Homo sapiens: one gene and its partners. The protein of the gene in region 1 purifies or fractionates together with the protein of each later gene. This does not show direct contact. Each region holds a gene or a part of one and is shown in the gene's direction. Other genes may lie near its edges.

The links. Proteins that work in one complex are often made in the same cells at the same time.
Region 2: the proteins of C5AR2 (region 1) and ASPHD2 purify together in Homo sapiens (affinity purification with mass spectrometry; 2 studies listed by BioGRID and IntAct, with this or other methods). This does not show direct contact.
Region 3: the proteins of C5AR2 (region 1) and COQ8B purify together in Homo sapiens (affinity purification with mass spectrometry; 2 studies listed by BioGRID and IntAct, with this or other methods). This does not show direct contact.

The regions. Positions count from the first base shown.
Region 1 is NC_000019.10:47,342,159-47,347,841, forward strand, and holds the end of C5AR2 (C5a anaphylatoxin chemotactic receptor 2), read left to right. Parts: 3' UTR 1-5,171; downstream 5,172-5,683.
Region 2 is NC_000022.11:26,424,927-26,432,287, forward strand, and holds the start of ASPHD2 (aspartate beta-hydroxylase domain-containing protein 2), read left to right. Parts: upstream 1-4,333; 5' UTR 4,334-4,560; intron 4,561-7,361. UniProt on the Homo sapiens protein: May function as 2-oxoglutarate-dependent dioxygenase.
Region 3 is NC_000019.10:40,699,859-40,706,886, reverse strand, and holds part of COQ8B (atypical kinase COQ8B, mitochondrial), read left to right. Parts: intron 1-1,439; coding exon 1,440-1,562; intron 1,563-1,705; coding exon 1,706-1,791; intron 1,792-3,031; coding exon 3,032-3,172; intron 3,173-3,264; coding exon 3,265-3,346; intron 3,347-4,193; coding exon 4,194-4,287; intron 4,288-6,435; coding exon 6,436-6,577; intron 6,578-6,712; coding exon 6,713-6,820; intron 6,821-7,028.

The DNA.
Region 1 (5,683 bases):
AGCCTAGCCAATATGGTGAAACCCTGTCTCTACTAAAAATACAAAAATTAGCCGGGCATGGTGGCGCATGCCTGTAGTCCCAGCTACTTGGGAGGCTGAGGCAGAAGAATCGTTTTGAACCCGGGAGGCAGAGGTGACAGTGAGCCAAGATTGAGCCCCTGCACTCCAGCCTGGGCGACAGAGCGAGACTCCGTCTCAAAAAATAAATAAATAAAAGATTCTATTTATTTATTTATTTTTTTGAGATGGAGTCTCGCTCTGTCGCCCAGGCTGGAGTGCAGTGGCACAATCTCGGCTCACTGCAAGCTCCGCCTCCTGAGTTCACGCCATTCTCCTGCCTCAGCCTCCTGAGTAGCTGGGACTACAGGCGCCCGCCACCATGCCCAGCTAATTTTTGTATTTTTAGTAGAGAAGGGGTTTCACCTTGTTAGCCAGGATGGTCTTGATCTCCTGACCTGGTGATCCACCCGCCTCAGCCTCCCAAAGTGCTGGGATTACAGGCGTGAGCCACCGCACCCGGCCAAAAGATTTTAATAGGATCCCTCTGGTTGCTGGTGGAGGTGAGAGTATGGTGTAGGGGCAGTGAAGATCCCAGAGAGGAGGCTACTGTAATGGTCCAAGCAGGAGGTGATAGCGATTTGGATCAGGGTAACAGAGCTGAGGTGGTGAGAGGCTGACAGGTCATGCATCTATTTTGAAGGAAAGGCCAAGTCCAGGCTCCTTAGCTCGGCATTCAAGGCTTCTCTCCACCACTGGACACACTTACTCTCTAGCTTCTCAGACCCTGTAGCAATCAGAATCATGACCCCCGGTGATGTCCACATCTTAATCCCCTGAACCTGTGAAGAGGTGACCTTCCATGGCAAAAGGGACTTTGCAGGTGAGATTAAGTAAAGGATCTTGAGAAGGGGTGGTTATCCTGGATTGTCTGGGTGGGCTCAATGGAGTCACGAGGGTCCTTTTAAGAGGGAGGCAGGAGGGTCAGGGTCAGTCACAGGAGGTGACAACGGAAGCAGATGTCATAGTGACGTGAGGAGGTGCCAAGAAATGCAGGCAGCTTCCAGAAGCTGAAACAGACAAGGAAACAGATTCTCTCTGAAGCTCCCAGAAGGAACACAGACCTCCTGACACTTTTAGACCTCTGATCCGCAGACCTTTAAGAAAATACATTTGTATTGTTTTAAGTCACTATGTTTGGGGTGATTTGTTATAGCAGCCGTGGGAAGCTAATACACACCCTTCGGGCTATATTCACGCTTCTGCATCTTTCCTGAAGCTGTGCCACTGGCTGGAATGTCCTTCTGATCTATGTTGTGCAGTTCAACAATCAAGAGCCATCTGTGGCTATTCAAATTCGAATCAATTGGCCAGGCCTGGTGGCTCCTGCCTATAATCTCAGCACTTTGGGAGGCCGAGGTGGGAGGATTGCATGAGCCCAGGAGTTTGAGACCAGCCTGGGCGACATAGCAAGACCCCATCTCTACAAAAAATACAAAAATTAGCCAGACGTGGTGGGGCGTGCCTGTAGTTCCAGCTACTGAGGAGGGAGTTGCTTGAATCCTTCTGCTTCAATCCTCCTTAAAGCAGGTAGATTGCTTGAGCCCGGGAAGTGGAGTTTGCAGTGAGCTTAGATCACACCGCTGCACTCCAGCCTGGATGTCAGAATGAGACTCCATCTCAAAAAAAAAAAGAAAGAAAGAATAAATTTTCATTTCAAATTTAGTTCCTCGGGCACACTGGCCATAGTTCAAGTGCTCAGTAGCCACATATGGCTGGTGACTGCCATATTCGACAGCACAGCTATAGAACATTGCCATCATAACAGAGATTTCTGTTACAAAATGCTGTTCTAGAATTTACTTTTGAACTCTACCTGCTCAGATCTTTTAAATTACATGGTAGGCCAGGCATGGTGGCTCACGCCTGTGATCCCAGCACTTTCGGAGGCCCAGTCGGGAGGATCCCTTGAGCCCAGAAGCTGGAGACCTGCCTGGGCAACAGAGCAAGACCCCATCTCTACAAAAATAAAAAAAAGAAAATTAGCCTGGTTTGGTGGCACATGCCTGTAGTGCCAGCTACTAGGGAGACTGAAGTGGGAGGATTGCTTCAGCCTGGGAGGTTGAGGCTGCAGTGAGCCGTGATCTCATCACTGCACTCTAGCCTAGGTGACGGAGCGGGACCCTGCCGCTAAATAAATAAATAAATAAATAACATAGTAGTGATACCTGTGTCTGCGGTCATTACTCCAGAACAGCACTTCACATATAGTTTCTCCTTTAAGGTCATTCTCACAACAGCCCAGGGAGATAGGGTGGCATGCTTCATTTTATAAGCTGAGGTCCTGGGAGGGGAGGTCATTTACCCAAGATCACACAGCAAGAACACCAGACAGCTGGAATTTGATCCCAGTTTTGACTCCAATGCTCTTGCTCTTCATCATCAATAATTTCCTTCAAGGCGTCCCTCAAATGTCACTTCCTCCAGGAAGCCCTCCCTGATTTATGCTCCTTCCAGAAAGAATGGGCTCTTCCTTTCTCTGAGTCTCTGGAACACAAGGTCCCAGCTAAACTGTAAATTCCCCAAGGGTAACAACTGGACTAATTTTTTTTAATTTAATTTAATTTTATTTTTTTGAGATGAAGTCTTGCTCTGTCACCCAGGCTGGATTGTAGTGGCACGATCTCGGCTGACCGCAACCTCCACCTCCCGGGTTCAAGCGATTCTTATGCCTCAGCCTCCCGAGTAGCTGGGATTACAGGCGCTGCCACCACACTTGGCTAATTTTTGTATTTTTAGTAGAGACAGGGTTTCACCATGTTGGCCAGGCTGGTCTCGAACTCCTGACCTCAGGTGATCCACCCACCTTGGCCTCCCAAAGTGCTGGGAATACAGGCATGAGCCACCGTTCCCGGCCTTATCCTTGACTTAGAATACCTAACCTCCTGGGAATGCAGCCCATAGGTCTCAGCCTTATTTCACCCAGCTCCTGTTCAAGATGGAGTCACTCTGGTTCACATGCCTCTGACATTTCCCCGCTCCCTTTTATAAGAGAACCTTTAATCCTAAGGGTTGTAGAGGGAGGAAGATACAACTTCTGTGACTTCTTCAGGCTGGACAGGGGTGACGATATACCTGCCTAACTCTTAGGATCTATTGGATTCAGGGTAGACAGGAGCTCAGTCAGAAAGCACTGGTATCACTTTTTTTTTTTTTTTTTTTTTTTGAGACGGAGTTTCACTCTTGTTGCCCAGGCTGGAGTGCAATGGCACGATCTCAGCTCACCACAGCCTCCGCCTCCCAGGTTCAAGCGATTCTCCTGCCTCAGCCTCCCCAGTAGCTGGGACTACAGGCGTGTGCCACCAAACCCAGCTAATGTTTTTTTTTTTTTATTTTTAGTAGAGACGGGGTTTCTCCATGTTGGCCAGGCTGGTCTCGAACTCCCGACCTCAGGTGATCCACCCGCCTCGGCCTCCCAAAGTGCTGGGATTACAGACATGAGCCACCACGCCCGGCCTGATATTTTATTACTTAGTATTTTACTCTGAATTATCATGCGTGAATTAAGACCAAGGCTGTCTTGTAAAATAAAATTTGTTGTGGAACAATTTATACAGCTCCTTTGAGGTAGGAGGCAGGACTCAACTCTGGAGATGGGGCTCGGCTCGAATATTGGACCAAATTGAGGACCAGCTAAAACAGGGAGGAGGCTGAAGCAACTTATTATTTTTATTTATTTTTATTTTTTGGAGAAGGAGTCTTGCTCTGTTACCCAGGCTGGAGTGCAGTGACACGATCTCGGCTCACTGCAACCTCCACCTTCCGGATTCAAGTGATTCTCCTGCCGCAGCCTCCCGAGTAGCTGGGACTACAGGCGCATGCCACCATGCCCAGCTAATATTTTTGTATTTTTTAGTAGAGATGGGGTTTCGCCATATTAGCCAGGCTGGTCTTGAACTCCTGACTCAGGTGATCTGCCCACCTCGGCCTCCCAAAGTGCTGGGATTACAGGTGTGGGCCACCACGCCTGGCCCGAAGCAACTTTCTATGACACGCCTACCAGTGTGCCATGTCAGTTTGCCATTGCCATGGCAACACACCCAGGAGTTACTGCCCCTTCCCATGGCAATGACCCCATGACCCAGAAGTTACTGCCCCTTCCCTAGATATTTCTGCATAAACTGCCCCTTAATCTACATGTAATTAAAAATAGGTATAGGCTATTTTTATACCTATATAAATAGGTATAGGCTAAAAATAGGTATAGGCTGGGCGTGGTGGCTCATGTCTGTAATCCCAGTACTTTGGGAGGCCAATGCAGGTGGATCACCTGAGGTCAGGAGATCAAGACCATCCTGGCTAACATAGTGAAACCCTGTCTCTACTAAAAATACAAAAAATTAGCCAGGCGTGTTGGCGGGAGCCTGTAGACTCAGCTACTCGGGAGGTTGAGGCAGGAGAATGGCGTGAACCCAGGAGGCGGAGCTTGCAGTGAGCCGAGATCACACCACTGCACTCCAGCCTGGGTGACAGAGCAAGACTCCGTCTAAAAAAAAAAAATAGTAAGAAAGAAGGAAAGACACAAAGACAGAAAGAAGGAAGGAAAGAAAGCAAGCTGTTTTCCCCTGCCTTGCCCCTGCTCACCTTTGAATTCTTTTCTGGGCAAAGCCAAGAACCCTCGTGGGCTAAAACCCCGCTTTGGGGCTTAAAGTTTGCAAAATCCTCCCATTAATCTATTGGGACCAGTTGCCACTTAGGAGCATTCTTTGATAACTTTTACAAAACATCTTTTGTGGTTTTTGAAATGTTTTCATTTTGTAGATCATTAGCCCTTCTTTTTTGAACTGGAATACATTTCACGGGAATTTTCAAATTTAAGTCTGTGCAATGTTACATAAAATACCTTTGATTATTAAAAGCCATCTGTTTTGCTATAACTTCCCTTTTTTGTTCTAAAGTTTGTCTATTTCTGCTATTTGTTTTTTTACCATAGAAATATTGATTTCCTTAAGTTTTCAAAGAACCAAGTTATTAATAATTTCTCTAAGAACTAGTCTCAAGCTTGCTATACAATCCTATGGTTGATAGACTGTGGCTTTCTTGTTGATTTCCATTTGTTGTTCATTTCCTCCAATTTTCCTTTTTTAAAAATTATAATTATTGTTTGGATTATTTATTTATTTATTTATTTGTTTGTTTGTTTATTTGAGACAGAGTTTCTCCTTGTCGCCCAGGCTAGAGTGCAATGATGCGATGTTGGCTCACTGCAACCTCCACCTCCTGGGTTCAAGCGATTCTCTTGCCTCAGCCTCCCGAGAAGCTGGGATTACAGGTGTCCGTCATCATGCCTGGCTAATTTTTTATATTTTTAGTAGAGACGGGATTTCATCATGTTGGCTTAGCTGGTCTCGAACTCCTGACCTCAGGTAATCCACCTGCCTCGGCCTCCCAAAGTGCTGGGATTACAGGCGTGAGCCACCGCACCTGGCCTTGTTTGGAAATTTTAAGCAGAATGCTTAGTCCATTTATTCTTCTTCTTTTGATAATAATGTATGAATTGGCTTCTCTATCTCTAAGTTGTTTTCCAGAGGCTTGATAATTATATCCAACGTTCCACTTGACATCCCCAGTTGATGTCCAATGCATAACTCAAACAATATGCTGAAAACAGATCTTCGGATTTTCT
Region 2 (7,361 bases), on another chromosome or scaffold:
TTTTAAAAGTTAAAAGTTAAGCTATTTCCAAATATTTGCAAATGCAAAGCGTATTCCTGAAAAGATGAATAAGAAATTTGTTATAATGGCTGTCTTCACTAAAGAAAACCAACTGGTTGAGGGATAGGAGAGTGACGCGGTCCCAGTAACTTTCTGCATGTTGTTCCGGAGTATTTAAACACCTTTGAAAATATTAAATTAAAACATCACAAAAAATGCTGGAGTTTCCCTTGCCTACTGCTCCCAATTCCTTGTTCCTTCTTGGTCCCCCCTGAAGTTACAACTCTTAGGAATTTGGTGTGCTTCCTCTGAGGGATATTATCTGCATTTACAAACGTAATTATTTTGCATTTTATATAGGAGAACATACTAGTGTGTTCTTCTAGTGCTTTCCCTGCTTTTATATAAATACATGTGTATACCCACATGTGTACAGGTGCGTGTTATGTAGATAAAATCATACTACAATCATAATTCTGCTTTTTTTTTAATTTTCACCCTATTATTTTTCTAGGAGCTTTATCCACGTTGCTATATATACATCTAGCTCCTGCTTTTAGTAGCTTCACAGTATTACGTAATATGAAAAAACAACTAGTCTTCCATCTATCCCAGAATCCCTCTAGGTTAGATATAGCATAGCGAAATTGTTGGTTTCAGTGTATACATATTTGTTGTTGTTTTAAGGAATACTACCAAACTGCTCTCCAAAGTGATCATACCAGTTTCTTTAATGCACCAAGCAAGCACATCTCCCTCCCTCCCTCCCTTCTTTCTTTCCTTCCTTCCTTTCCTCCTTCCCTCTCTCCCTCCCTCCCTCTCTCTTTCTTTCTTTCTTCTTTCAGAGAGTTTTGCTCTGTTACCCAGGCTGGAATGCAGTAGTGCAATCTCAGCTCACTGCAACCTCTGCCTCCTGGGTTCAAGCAATTCTCCTGCCTCAGCCTCCAGAGTAGCTGGGACTACAGGCGTGCACCACCACACCTGTAGTTAATTAATACAAAAATTAATACAAAACTTTTTGTACTTTTAGTAGAGACAGGGTTTCAACATGTTGATCAGGATGGTCTAGGACTTCTGACTTCAGGTGATCCACTGGCCTCGGCCTCCCAAAGTGCTGGGATTACAGATGTGAGCCACCACGGCTGGCCGCAAGCACATTTTCCACTGACTTGCTGCAACCTTGATTGAGCAAGGCATGTTTTCTCTCTGGGCTTCCATCTGTAGGAGGAGGGAGTTGAGTGGACCCCGTGAGTGTATGAGACGGTGTAATGATAGGTTGTGTAGTCTCGGAGTGGGTAGGATGACTGCGCTAAAGAAGGCAGCGAGAGCAGGAGGATGCAGGTGGCAGCCAAGCTGAAGGCAGGCAATTCAGATGCCCTTGGTCCTCCTCTCCGCCTCTCCATGAGCACAGTAACAATTTATCTGGAGCTCTCACCCAAAATCCCCCTCTGAAAGGCATGGATATCCTTTTCTGCAGAATTCACCTAGTAGGGTCTCCAAGGGGTTGACAGAGGCCCAGGTCATTTCCATTTATTGAGACTCCCAGCTAATTAAAAAGATGAAGAAATGGTAAGCAGGGCTAACAAAATTGCGTGTATAGTAATATTGCCATTGAACAAATAAATACTAACAAATGCAGAGCAGTGGTCTACAGATATCATATAATTGCACTGGTCAAGGACACTTATAGGATTGATAGACAATATTAATTCATAATACAGTACAGATAAGATGGTGCAGGAATGGAACACATATTTACAATATAAAAATATCTTTTTTTTTTCAAACCTGCCAGGATAATGCTGTGATAGAATGTATGACTGCCTTTGGAGAATTCTAAGTTTGAGCAACTTTCTGAATGTGAGATGAGTCAAATACCCCCCACTCCATTTTCTCCACCCCACCCAGGCTCAACCACTCTTAGGCTGACAGTGAAGACAGACATCCCATTTAATGTTTCTAAATCTGATGCCTGTGTTGATTATCCACACTTTGAGCAAATCTGTGCATATTATGGTTTCCCAATGCAAGTGTTTTGGTTTATTTTAGTAGAATAAAAGAGAAAAAACATTCTTCCTCTTTTGGAGTTGAGAAAAGGAGAGAAATGACAGAGATGAAGAAGAGTCTAAGACATGGAAGAGGTGTATTCTGGGACATGGGAGAGGTGTACTCTGGGACATGGAAGAAGTGGGTTCTGGGACATGACAAACTGGGTTCTGGAACAGGGAGGAGGTGGATTTTAGGCTATCACAGTAGAGGCAGATTCTTAGGTCAGGGACCAGGTGGATTTTGGGACAGAGATGAGAGGTGGGTTCTGGGACATGGTGGAGGTGGGCTCTGGGACAGGGAGGAGGTACATTCTGGAACAGGGTGAAGGTGGCTTCTGGAACAGGGAGGAGGTGGGTACTGGGACAGGGTGGAGGTGGGTCTTGGAACAGGGAGGAGGTGAGTTCTGGAACAGGGTGGAAGTGAGTTCTGGAACAGAGAGGGGGTGGGTCCTGGAACAGGGAGGAGGTGGGTTCTGGCACAGGGTGGAGGTGGGTCCTGGGACAGGGAGGAGGTGGGTCCTGGGACAGGGAGGAGGTGAGTTCTGGAACAGGGTGGAGGTGAGTTCTGGAACAGAGAGGGGGTGGGTCCTGGAACAGGGAGGAGGTGGGTTCTGGCACAGGGTGGAGGTGGGTCCTGGGACAGGGAGGAGGTGGGTCCTGGGACAGGGAGGAGGTGAGTTCTGGAACAGGGTGGAGGTGAGTTCTGGAACAGAGAGGGGGTGGGTCCTGGAACAGGGAGGAGGTGGGTTCTGGCACAGGGTGGAGGTGGGTCCTGGGACAGGGAGGAGGTGGGTCCTGGGACAGGGAGGAAGTGCGTTCTGGAAGAGGGAGGAGGTGCGTTCTGGAAGAGGGAGGAGGTGGGTTCTGGAAGAGGGAGGAGGTGGGTTCTAGAAGAGAGAGGAGGTGGGTTCTGTAGCAGGAAGGAGGTAGGTTCTGGCACAGGGTGAAGGTGGGTCCTGGGACAGGGAGTAGGTGGGTTCTGGAACAGGAAGGAGGTATGTTCTGGAACAGGGTGAAGGTGGCTTCTGGAATAGGGAGGAGGTGGGCTCTGGGACAGGGTGGAGGTGGGTCCTGGGACAGGGAGGAGGTGGGTCCTGGGACAGGGTGGAAGTGGGTCCTGGGACAGAAAGAAGGTAGGTTCTGGAAGAGGGAGGAGGTGGGCTCTGGAAGAGGGAGGAGGTGGGTTCTGGAAGAGGGAGGAGGTGGGTTCTGTAACAGGAAGGAGGTGAGTTCTGGCACAGGGTGGAGGTGGGTCCTGGGACAGGGAGGGAGGTGGGTTCTGGAACAGGAAGGAGGTACGTTCTGGAACAGGGTGAAGGTGGCTTCTGGAATAGGGATGAGAAATGGATTCTGGGACAGACATGAGGTGGCTTCTGGGCCATGTTAGAGATAAATTCTGGGACACAAGAGAGGTGGGTCTGGGACAGAGACAGATGGATTGTGGGCGGGCCATCCTACTCTATGCTCCCAGAACCCACCCATGCAGTTTCCCTGGCGCCCCTAACACATCCCGTAGCCACTGTTAGTCTCCCCCAGGTCTTAGCTCAAACGTCACCTCCTCCAAGCAGCCTCCTTGGGGCCTCCATTCGCAGCTCATCAGTCCCCTGGTCAGACAACCGTCCTGCCTGTACTTCCCCTCCTAAACCCTACCCGGGGGTGAGGGTCCCCTCCCGCTAGACGGTGGCTCACTGAGGGCAGGGCGGGCCTGAGCGCTCACCGCGCACGCTCAGCGCAGCTGGCAGGGACGGGGACCCAGGCTGGCCCATCATTACTGTACTGAGCGAATGAGTTTTCCATGAGACTAAGAATCTGGTTTGATTTGCGGTTCCATTCCAAGTGCCTGAGGGCCTCAGAAGTCCGTGTTGAGTCCATCAATAAAGGAAAGAAGGCGTTAGGGCGAGAGGAAGTGAGGTGGGGGGGAAGTGAAAGAGAATGAAAAGGAGGAAATGGAGACGAGGGCGACTCAGAGAGGAACAGAGAGACAGAGGGAGGGAGAACTGAGAAAGACACAGAGCGAAAAACGAAAGAGCGAAGGAAGCGACGCGAGCCTTTCTTAATGAATGACTGCACGCCCGTCGCCGCCTGCGCGCAACCTCGGGCTGGGCGGGCGCTGCGTCTCGGGGCGCACTGCCAGGACCCTCCGGAGCGGCGGCGGGCGCGGCCTCGGGTCGCCTCCCGCACTGCGAGCGCAGGTGCCGGGTGCAGGGGGGTCCCCGGCCCCGCCCCGCAGGCCCCGCCCCCCCGTACCCCCTCCCCCGGCGGCCCAGCGCGCGCGGCATTGTGGGAGTTGTGGTCTTCGCGGCCCCGCGGAGCGCAGCGCGGCGTCGGCACCGGCAGGGGCACCGGCGCGGCTTAGGCTCGGGCTCGGGCTCCGGCTCGGGCTCCCGCGGCGTGGGCTGGGCAGCAGCCAGGCGGCGGCTCCGCGGCGCCGGGCAGGGGCCGTCCGCGGGTCCGCGCCCTCGGGCGGCGGCGTCTCCTGGGTCCCGGCAGCCGTCCGCGCGCCCGGGCGCAGGTAAGCTTCGTCTCCGGGGGCTGCCGGGGCGGGAGGGCGGCGCGGCTGGGCCGACCCCAGGACAGGGGTTGGAGGCGGGAGCCCGGCAGCTGCAGGCCCACGGCCCTCCCTTACCGGCGCCGCCGCCGCCGCCGCCCCCGCCGAGGATGCTCCGGGACCCGGGCGCCCGCATCCCGGCCCGGCCGAGGCCAGTGCTCGTACGTGCTAAGCGCCGCCGCCTCGGAGCCGGGCATCACCCTCCCTAGACCTCCTCCTACTCCTCTTCCCTGCCCCATCGTGGTCCCTTCCTCCATCTCCCTTCTCCCCTGTGACCCCTCTTTCCTCACCTCCTGTCCCCTCCCCCAGCCCTCAGCATCACCCACTTCCCATATTTCACGTGGTGACCCTCCTCCCCTGTCCCACGAATTATGAGGCGCCATAAACCTCCTTCCACAATCTTGAGCTGATCGTCCACTTTTCCGGGCAACACTCACCTTTCCATCGTCCCATCCCCCTCCTCCCCTGACCTCCTGGTGGTCACCATCTGTGCTAACCCATCTTCAGCCCTCCCCTCTTTCCCACTCTCCAGGGCAGGTGGGTGCTGAGAAGCTGGCCAAGAGAGGGAAGGTCCCCAGGTCTGCACCGGGAAGGGCTGGCCCCACGGCATCTCTCTGGCTCCTGAGTGGAGAGGGTGACAGGCATCACACACCTTGCCCAGTGCTGCTCACTGGGGGGCTTCCAGGGTGACTTGGCCTCATCCTGAGGGTGAGCAGACACTCTTTGGCATTAGGCAGCCTCTGGGAATGGACATCTGAACTAGGCTGACCAGGTCAGGCCTGACACCGGCTCTCCCAGGTGTTCATGGTGTGAGAAGTTGTCTTGGATTGGACTTGCTCTCCAACTGGCCATGGATTTGGACTCAATTCCCCAGAGCCAACTGAGCTGGAAGATCTGGGGTTGCTTATTATTAAAGTGCAGAGCTGCAATGAGATGTCCCCATCCCTGATGAGGACAGAAATAACACAGATGACAATGAACAGATGTGCGAAGGAAGCTGGAAGCTACTGTGGTCACTGGGCAAGGAGCTGTCGGGGGAGAGAGTCTCTCCTCTCCCCACTGGGTAGATGGGGAGTTGTCACTAGGTAGCTGTGAGGATCAAATGTTTGAAGCAGTGCTTAATAAACTGCCAGTCACTCTGCAAATGTGTTTCTTTTATTGTCATAGTTCAGCTTTGAGCTTGTAAATCCACCTCCGGGTGCAGGGGCCTGTTGGCATATTTTGGCTAAAAGTGACTGACAGGTATGAAAAGTCCTAACTTGAGCTCTCAGTGCTATTTATGATCTCGGGAGGAGGGTCTGAAGCTGGGGTTCAGAATCTTTTACATTCTTTTGCTTACAGCTCAGCCTTAGGGAGGGCTCATGGCTGGCTTAGTACAGAAGGAGGCTTTCCTGAGAAGAGTACAGGGCTGGGGTGTCCAGTGGAGAGGTTTCTCCATCATCCACCCTGTTTTCTGTGTCTGCATTTTGCTTGACTTAAGTGATCAGCAGGGCTGATGGGAACTAACACTTTACAGGTGCTTGTTAAATTATCACCGTCTCACTCTTAGAACATTTAAGAAAAAAACCTTTCCTCCTGACAGACTCAGTTGAAAAGTTCCAGTAGGGGTTTAGCTCAGTGATGGGGGAAATCCTTTTAGTAAAAGTGCTTGGTGTCACATAGATGATTGTTTCACACTGAATTTCAGGAACTCTGAGGTTCTGTTTGGGAGATGGCTTGCAAACAAAACATCTTTCATCTGGATTTTCTTTCCTTTTCCTAAAGAGTAACAGCTGCCAGTTTATGGTCTAACAAGGAGAGAAACAGGGGGCTGAAGGGGTTTCTTAACCTCCAGTGAGTCATAGCCTTTTCCTCTTCTCCTGAATCTGAGAAGAAATTGAGAATGTGTGGGAAAGAAAAAAAAAAAAAAACAAAAGAAAACAAAAAACAACTTAGCTTCTAACCTCCCCACTCTTGTATTTTTCCTAGAAACATAAAAAATTTCCATGAATATTCAGCATGTGTGTTTTTGACTTACTAAACATTATAGTCAAGTGATTATTCAACCGAAACTGGGAAAAAGCAAGTAGGCAGTTAATGAGCACCTAAGGTTTCCCTTTCATTTTTAGCTTAGCAAGTCTGGGGACAAAAAAGCCACTCAATACATGAGGCAACAAGAGTGTCCAGGATTTACCTTTAACTGTTGGAATTCCGAGTCTTGCTATACCTTTCTCTCGTGCCCCACCTTTGGAACGCTGGCTACTCATTATGGGATGCCACCCATCCTAGCCGTCGCCTGCATATATTGGGTGCTCATTATGACGTGGTCGTAAGTGCTGTCCATCCGCCATCATTCATCTTCATCCAGTGAGATGAACACGAACCCCATTTCATGGATAAAGAAACTGAGGCAGCCAGGCGCAGTGGCTCACGCCTGTAATCCCAACACTTTGGGAGGCTGAGGTGGACGGATCACCTGAGATTGGGATTTCAAGACCAGCCTGACCAACATGGAAAAACCCCATCTCTACTAAAAATACAAAATTAGCTGGGTGTGATGGCGCATGCCTGTAATCCCAGCTACTCAGGAGGCTGAGATAGGAGAATCACTTGAACCTGGAAGGTGGAGGTTGTGGTGAGCCAAGATTGCACCATTGCACCCCAGCCTGGGCGATAAGAGTGAAACTCCGTCTCAAAAGAAAAGAAACAGGCTTAGGAAAAGCGATCTGCCCAAGGTTGGGATGAATCCTCAACTGGGCCCATCTCTAATCTGGCTTCTCTCTGCT
Region 3 (7,028 bases), 6.6 Mb from region 1:
GTGAATTATAACAGTATGTGAATTATTTCTCAATAAAACTGTTAGAATGAGCCTCCAAAGAGCTTATTTATGTGGATTATAGTTATCAATGTCTACCATATTAGAAATTAAAACTGAGAAATTTTTAGGCCAGGTGCGGTGGCTTACGCCTGTAATCCCAACACTTTGGGAAGCTGGGGCGGGAGGATCCCTTGAGGTCAGGAATTTGAGACCAGTCTGAGTGACATAGCGAGGCCCCATTTTTACAGAAAGTAAAAATATTAGCCAAGCATGGTGGTGCATACCTGTAGTCCCAGCTACTCAGGAGGTTAAGGCAGGAGGATCACTTGGGCCCAGGAGGTTGCAGTGAGCCATGATTGTGCCGCTGCACTCCAGCCTGGGTGATAGAGTGAGACACTGTCTCAAAAACACAACAAAAATACAGAGATATTTTTAAAACACAAGAGTACACACGTACACATTCCATCAGCTGTCAGTCTGATGGTGTCCTCACATGTCCTGGAGCCTCTGGAGAACTCCAGTGAATGTTCTTAGACGCATGAGAGCAGAAAGGGGAAAATAACATCTTAATGTTACGATAAAAATAGTTTGATCTCTCAGACCCCTCTGAATGGTCTCAGGGACCCTCAGGGGTCCCTGGCCCACATTTCGAGAATCGTTGCCCTTCTCATGTCCCCACCTGGTCACTCCCCTCACCAAGGGTGACCTCTGTCTTGGCTCCTGGACCCTGGATTTGTTTGGCCTTGTTTTGCTCTTTATATCAGTGTAACTGGGTGATGATTTCATGCACCCGGCTGCTTTCACTCAGCATTACATTTTTGAGACCCACCTGGGCTGTTGTGTGTAGTGATAGCTCATCTATTCAATACTGTAGTAGTTACTCTTTGACTCTCCTGCAATTTGTTTTAACTTATGTTTATTTTTCTTTCTTTCTTTTCTTTTTTTTTTTTTTTTCCCGAGACAGGGTATTGCTTGGTTGCCCAGGCTGGAGTGCAATGGTGCGATCACAGTTCATTGCAGCCTCAACCTCCAGGGCTCAAGCAATCCTCCTGCCTCAGCCTCCTGAGTAGCTGGGACTACAGGCACATGCCACCATACACCCAGCTAATTAGAGACAGGGTCTTGCTTTGTTATCCAGGCTGGTCTGGAACTCCTTGACTCAAGCCATCCTCCTGCATTGACCTCCCAGTGTTGGGATTATAGGCGCGAGCCAACAAGCCTGGCCTCCGTATTTCGTTTTAGCCATTCCTGTTGGTGTGCAGATGATATATATTTTTTTTAATAGAGAAAGGATGTCACTGTTGCCCAGACTGGTCTCAGACTCCTGTGTTCATCCCGCCTGGGTCTCCCAAAGTGCTGGGATTACAGGCGTGGGCCGCCGGGCCTGGCCGCAGTGATGATATTTGTGGTTATAATTCTAATGGTTGTTCTCTCCCCAGAGGGTGGTTCTGGGCTGGACTCCAGCCCCTTCCTGTCGGAGGCCAATGCCGAGCGGATTGTGCAGACCTTATGTACAGTTCGAGGGGCCGCCCTCAAGGTTGGCCAGATGCTCAGCATCCAGGGTACAGCATGACCCTCGACTCCTGACCCCTGACCTCCCTTCTACCCCAGCCCTACCCACCAACAGGCCCCAACTTCAGATACTCACACGGGGTCCCTCCTCACCTCTTCGCTTACTTCCCCCCTGGTTCCACTGTCTCCCAAGACAACAGCTTCATCAGCCCTCAGCTGCAGCACATCTTTGAGCGGGTCCGCCAGAGCGCCGACTTCATGCCCCGCTGGCAGATGCTGGTGAGTGCCCAGTGGGGGAGGGCGGTGAGGGAGGCAGGCTCCATCTCCTCTGACCTGCCTGACCTTCCTGGCTTCACTGCCCCACTCCCTGCCTCTGAGCCTCACTTTCCCCATCTGTAAAATGGGAATCACCAGAGTACACACCTCCTAGCATTGCTGTGGTGATTAAAACAGGGAACAGCAGCCTGACCTCTCTGTGCTTCAGTTCCCTTCCCTGGGAAATGGCGATAGTGACAGCCACACCCACATCATAGGGTCACATAAATCAGTTTACACTGAGCACTGAGAACGGCCCCTGATTCACTGTGAGCAACATGCAGGTGTTAGCTGTGATTATTACTGTTTTTTTAATTAAAGGAGATCGTGTCTGTAATAGGTTGGCACGGCGCCTGGCACCAAGTAAGTGCCCAGGACATGAGCTGTTCTAATAACTGGGTAAGGCATGGAATCCAGGATTCCGCCACCCACCTGCTCTCCCATCCCTGTTCTGCTTATTCGCCATGCGGCCCCAGGCAGGTACTGCCTCTCTCTGGGCCACTCTGAATAGGACCTGGCCCACAGGAAGCCCATTGTAAATTTTAGCTCTTCTTGATCACAGTAACTGTGAGTTAATAATAACATATAAGAGCATAATAAAGGATGGTTGGCCACGTGTAATGGCTCATGCCTGTAATCCCAGCACTTTGGGAGGCTGCGGTGGGAGGATCATTTGAGCTCAGGACTTCCAGACCACCCTGGGCAACATAGTGAGACCTTGTCTCTACTAAACATAATAACAGTAATAATTAGCTGGGCACAGTGGCACATATCTGTAGTCCCAGCTATTCAGGAGGCAGGAGGATGGCTTGAGCTCGGGAGGTTGATGCTGCAGTGAGCCGTGAGAGTGCCACTACACTCCAGCCTGGGCTACAGAACAAGACCCTGTCTCAAAAAAAAAAAAAAAAAAAGGATTGTTATGAGTCTTAACTATAAATAATAGCAATCCCCACAACAGCCCAGGGAGTCCAGGTTCAGGGGACACAGGCTAGGCTGAGCCTCACAGTCTGCCAGTGCCTGGCTAGTCACTTGCACAAGGGAGCTCTCTCTGAGCCTCAGTTTCCTCATCTGCAAAGGGGGTGGCAGCCAAGAGCTTAGCCCAGGGCCCTGCATGTGGTGAGTGCTGGGGTTATCAACACGTAAAGCACTCAGCCTGGGGAATGAACTCTGCCACAATGATGATGGCTGTGACCACTCCCCGCAGAGAGTTCTTGAAGAGGAGCTCGGCAGGGACTGGCAGGCCAAGGTGGCCTCCTTGGAGGAGGTGCCCTTTGCCGCTGCCTCAATTGGGCAGGTGCACCAGGGCCTGCTGAGGGACGGGACGGAGGTGGCCGTGAAGATCCAGGTGAGAGGGGAGGCTGGGCAGGGTAGGGGCGGGCACCCTGCTAGCCCAGAGAAGTGACTCCCACCTTCTCTCCCTCCCTTCTCCCTTTACAGTACCCCGGCATAGCCCAGAGCATTCAGAGCGATGTCCAGAACCTGCTGGCGGTACTCAAGATGAGCGCGGCCCTGCCCGCGGGTGAGGCGCCCACCCACTCCTCTGCTGACCTCCCAAAGGGGCTATGCCCAGAGAGAGAAAGCAGGAGGGGGAGCCCAGAGGAGAGCACGGGCAGGGTGTGCTGGCGTTGTGAGCGGGAGTGTCAGAGACAGAAAGGACACCAAGGCGGGGAGAGCCCAGGGAGCATGAGCAGGTGTGGGAAAAGCCTTATGGATTTTAACAGAGCCTTAGAGAGACGGGAGCCCAGGGCCAAGATACAGCAGCAGACTCTCAGAGGGTGTGCATGCAGGGAGCGGGATTGTAGGTGCGGCAGAGCAGAAAAGGACAGTCCTGGGGATGGCACGTGAGGAGGCGCCTAGAGAAAGGAGGGTGGGTTGTGTTTGTGTAAGAGACGGAGAGGGAGAGGGAAAGCCAGGCCCAGAAGTGAGATTCAGATGCAGTGAGCAACGTGAGAGTCAGTATGAAAAGGAGACAGAATAGAGGCAGGCGTGACTCTGAAAGAGCTGCCAGGGACTGGGGTGCAGGCATGTGCAAGAGACAGAGCCCAGAAAAGGCTTCGGAAGACCCCGGGGAACCCTGTGGTGCTATGAAGGACGAGGGAAATGTGTAGACAGATGATACGATGCAGGTCAGAGGCCTGGAGCAGGAGCTGCAAGGGGCAGCGGGGGAGACAGGAGAGGGACAGATGCAGGTCAGAGGCAGGAGCAGGAGCTGCGTGGGAGACAGGAGAGGGACAGATGTGGGTCACAGGCCTAGAGTAGGAGCTGTGAGGGACAGCGCGGGAGACAGGAGAGAGAGGGTTGGCAGGAGAAGGCATCCACCAGTGGGCGCTCGGGGCCCTTCCCTGGCTGACACACCTCCCCCACAGGCCTGTTTGCCGAGCAGAGCCTGCAGGCCTTGCAGCAGGAGCTGGCTTGGGAGTGTGACTACCGTCGTGAGGCGGCTTGTGCCCAGAATTTCAGGTGAGCTGAGTGCCCTGAGCTTCCCTCCTTCCCTCCCTCCCAGGCTGGGTGGGAAGTAGCTGCCCCCTCAGCTTCTGGCAGCTGGAGCTGTGGGGTAGGGCAAACTCTCTCTTTCTTTCAATCATTGTTCATCCATCCTTCCACTCATCCATCACTTCGCTTACCCCCTTTGTCCTCTGTGAGCTTGGGCAGGTCACTTCCCAAGCGGCAGTCTTCTCCTGTGTCAGATGGGCCGCATATCCACTGTGGTCCGACACAGGCACTTAATTAATTACACAATGACACACTCTTACCTCTGCTGGACTGACGGAGAGCAAGGAGCCCACAGCACTGGGAGGTAGAGAGAGTGGGCTCCACAGCATCCCTTCTGCACTGCAGGTTGTGGGAGAAGGTGGTAGAAGCATTTTGAGAACAGGTTGGCATCATCACATAAGCCCTTATATTCAAGAACTCTGCAAGCCAACGATTGCCCTCCCTGCTGAACACTCTAGGGACCCTTTTGCCAGTATCCATCATCAGACTGTTCTAGAACGCTTGTCTGCAACAGCCCCAAACTGGAAACAACCCATATCCATCAAGTTTATCCAGCAGGGTGGACAAATAAGCAACGGTATATTCATCTGTGGAATATTACGTAGCAGTGAAAATGCATGAACTATGGCTACGTGGAACAATGTGGTTATATCTTGGAAGCATCCTGATGTGTAGCAATTAATGGCACCTCAGTGGGGTCCTCCACAGTGTGGCTCACACATTTATTGACAGCCTAAAACGTGCCAAGCTCTGTAGACAGAGAGTGAAAGCTCAGTAGAAGGCAGTGGTTAGAGGCACACACCCTAGACTCAGATGCGGGATGAAATCCTGGGTCAGCCCTTAACAGGTTACGTGGCCTGCATCCATACAATCTGTACAGTGGCCTCCAGAGAGCATCCCCTCACTGTGGAGTGAGGATGAAAGGGGAGTGTGCCGATTAAATGCCCCACATGGCTCCGGTTCATGAGGAGCAGTTCAAACATCAGAGATTTTTATCAACAAGGACAAAAATACAAACCCCAAAGGAGGAGCTCAAGGAAGAGAGTGTGAAGTGGGGTGATGGGCCAGAGACCCCCCCGTCCCCCACAGGATTCCCGGGTGCCCTTAGGATAAAACCCCACACCACCCTCCTGTTCTCCCTCACTCTCCTCCAGCCATCCCACGGATCCTCAACCAGAGACCTTGCTCATATTCTCTGCCTCCCAAATCTTACATAGACATACTTCTTTTATTTTTTTGAGACAGGGTCTCGCTCTGTTTTCCAGGCTGGAATACAGTGGTGAGATCACAGCTCACTCCAGCCTCGACCTCCCAGGCTCAAGTGATTTTCCCACCTCAGCCTCCTGAGTAGCTGGGAACATAGGCGCAGGCCACCACGCCCAGCTAATTTTTGTAGTTTTTCATAAAGACGAGGTTTCACCATGTTGCCCAGGCTGGTCTTGAACTCCTGGGCTCAAGCGATTCTCCCACCTCGGTGTCTCAAACTGCTGGGATTACAGGTGTAAGCCACTGCACCCAGCCAACACACTTACCTCAATCTATAATCCGTCTGTTTGTGAGAGTGTGGTCTCGGGGTTGGGGGCCAGGTCCAGGGACTGGTTCATTCACTGCTCTGTCCCCAGCATCATTTAGCACAAGGATGGACACAGAAGATTCTTTCCCGCTATTTACCTGTGTTCAGAGTAGTGATTGCAAGGACTGACCCATGGGTATCACTATAGACTTCACAGATTTTGATACCAGTGACTACTTTTGGGATGAATGAATTAATAAATTAATGAAAAAGTAATGCAAAGGCTGAAATACACCTGAACTCATCCTTCTGGGGCAACCAGAAGTCATAGAAGGGTTTCGGGTAGGGAAGTGGTGACTGGGTTTCCAGCAGCACCCAGTTGAGAGGCAGGTGCAGAGTAGGCACCTTGGAGATACTTGTTAAATCTCAGTCCAGCCAGGTGTTGGTCATCACCCAGGGCAGACAGCAGCAAGAGATGGGCAGGAGGGAGGGCATGGCGCAGACTGTTCATGGAGGACTTCTGAGAGCACAAGGAGGAGGTCTCAAGCTGGGTCACAAGCCTGAAGCACGAAGTCCCCTTCCTCCCTTTCCTTCTGCCCCAGGCAGCTGCTGGCAAATGACCCCTTCTTCCGGGTCCCAGCCGTGGTTAAGGAGCTGTGCACGACACGGGTGCTGGGCATGGAGCTGGCTGGAGGGGTCCCCCTGGACCAGTGCCAGGGCCTAAGCCAGGACCTGCGGAACCAGGTATGCTGTCTGGTGGCACAGTGGGAAGGGCATGGCCCCAGGGCGGGTGGGCCAGGCTCATGGTCTCTCTCCAGGCCAGCAGTGGCACCACAAGGGAGATCACACTGAGATGCCTGTTAATTCTCCCCACCCCAGATTTGCTTCCAGCTCCTGACGCTGTGTCTGCGGGAGCTGTTTGAGTTCCGATTCATGCAGACTGACCCCAACTGGGCCAACTTCCTGTATGATGCCTCCAGCCACCAGGTTGGTTCCTAGTGATGTGTGTCTGGGTACATTTGCTGTTGTAACAAATATTCCTTGATATTTCGGTAGCTCAACAAAATAGCAGTTGATTACCCCCACAATAGGCAGGGGTGGCCCTTTTCCAAGTGGGATTCAGGGACCCAGCTCCTTCCCTTTTGTGGTTTTGCCATCCCTGGGGCCTTGCAACGCTCTGCTTCCCAAGGAAAGG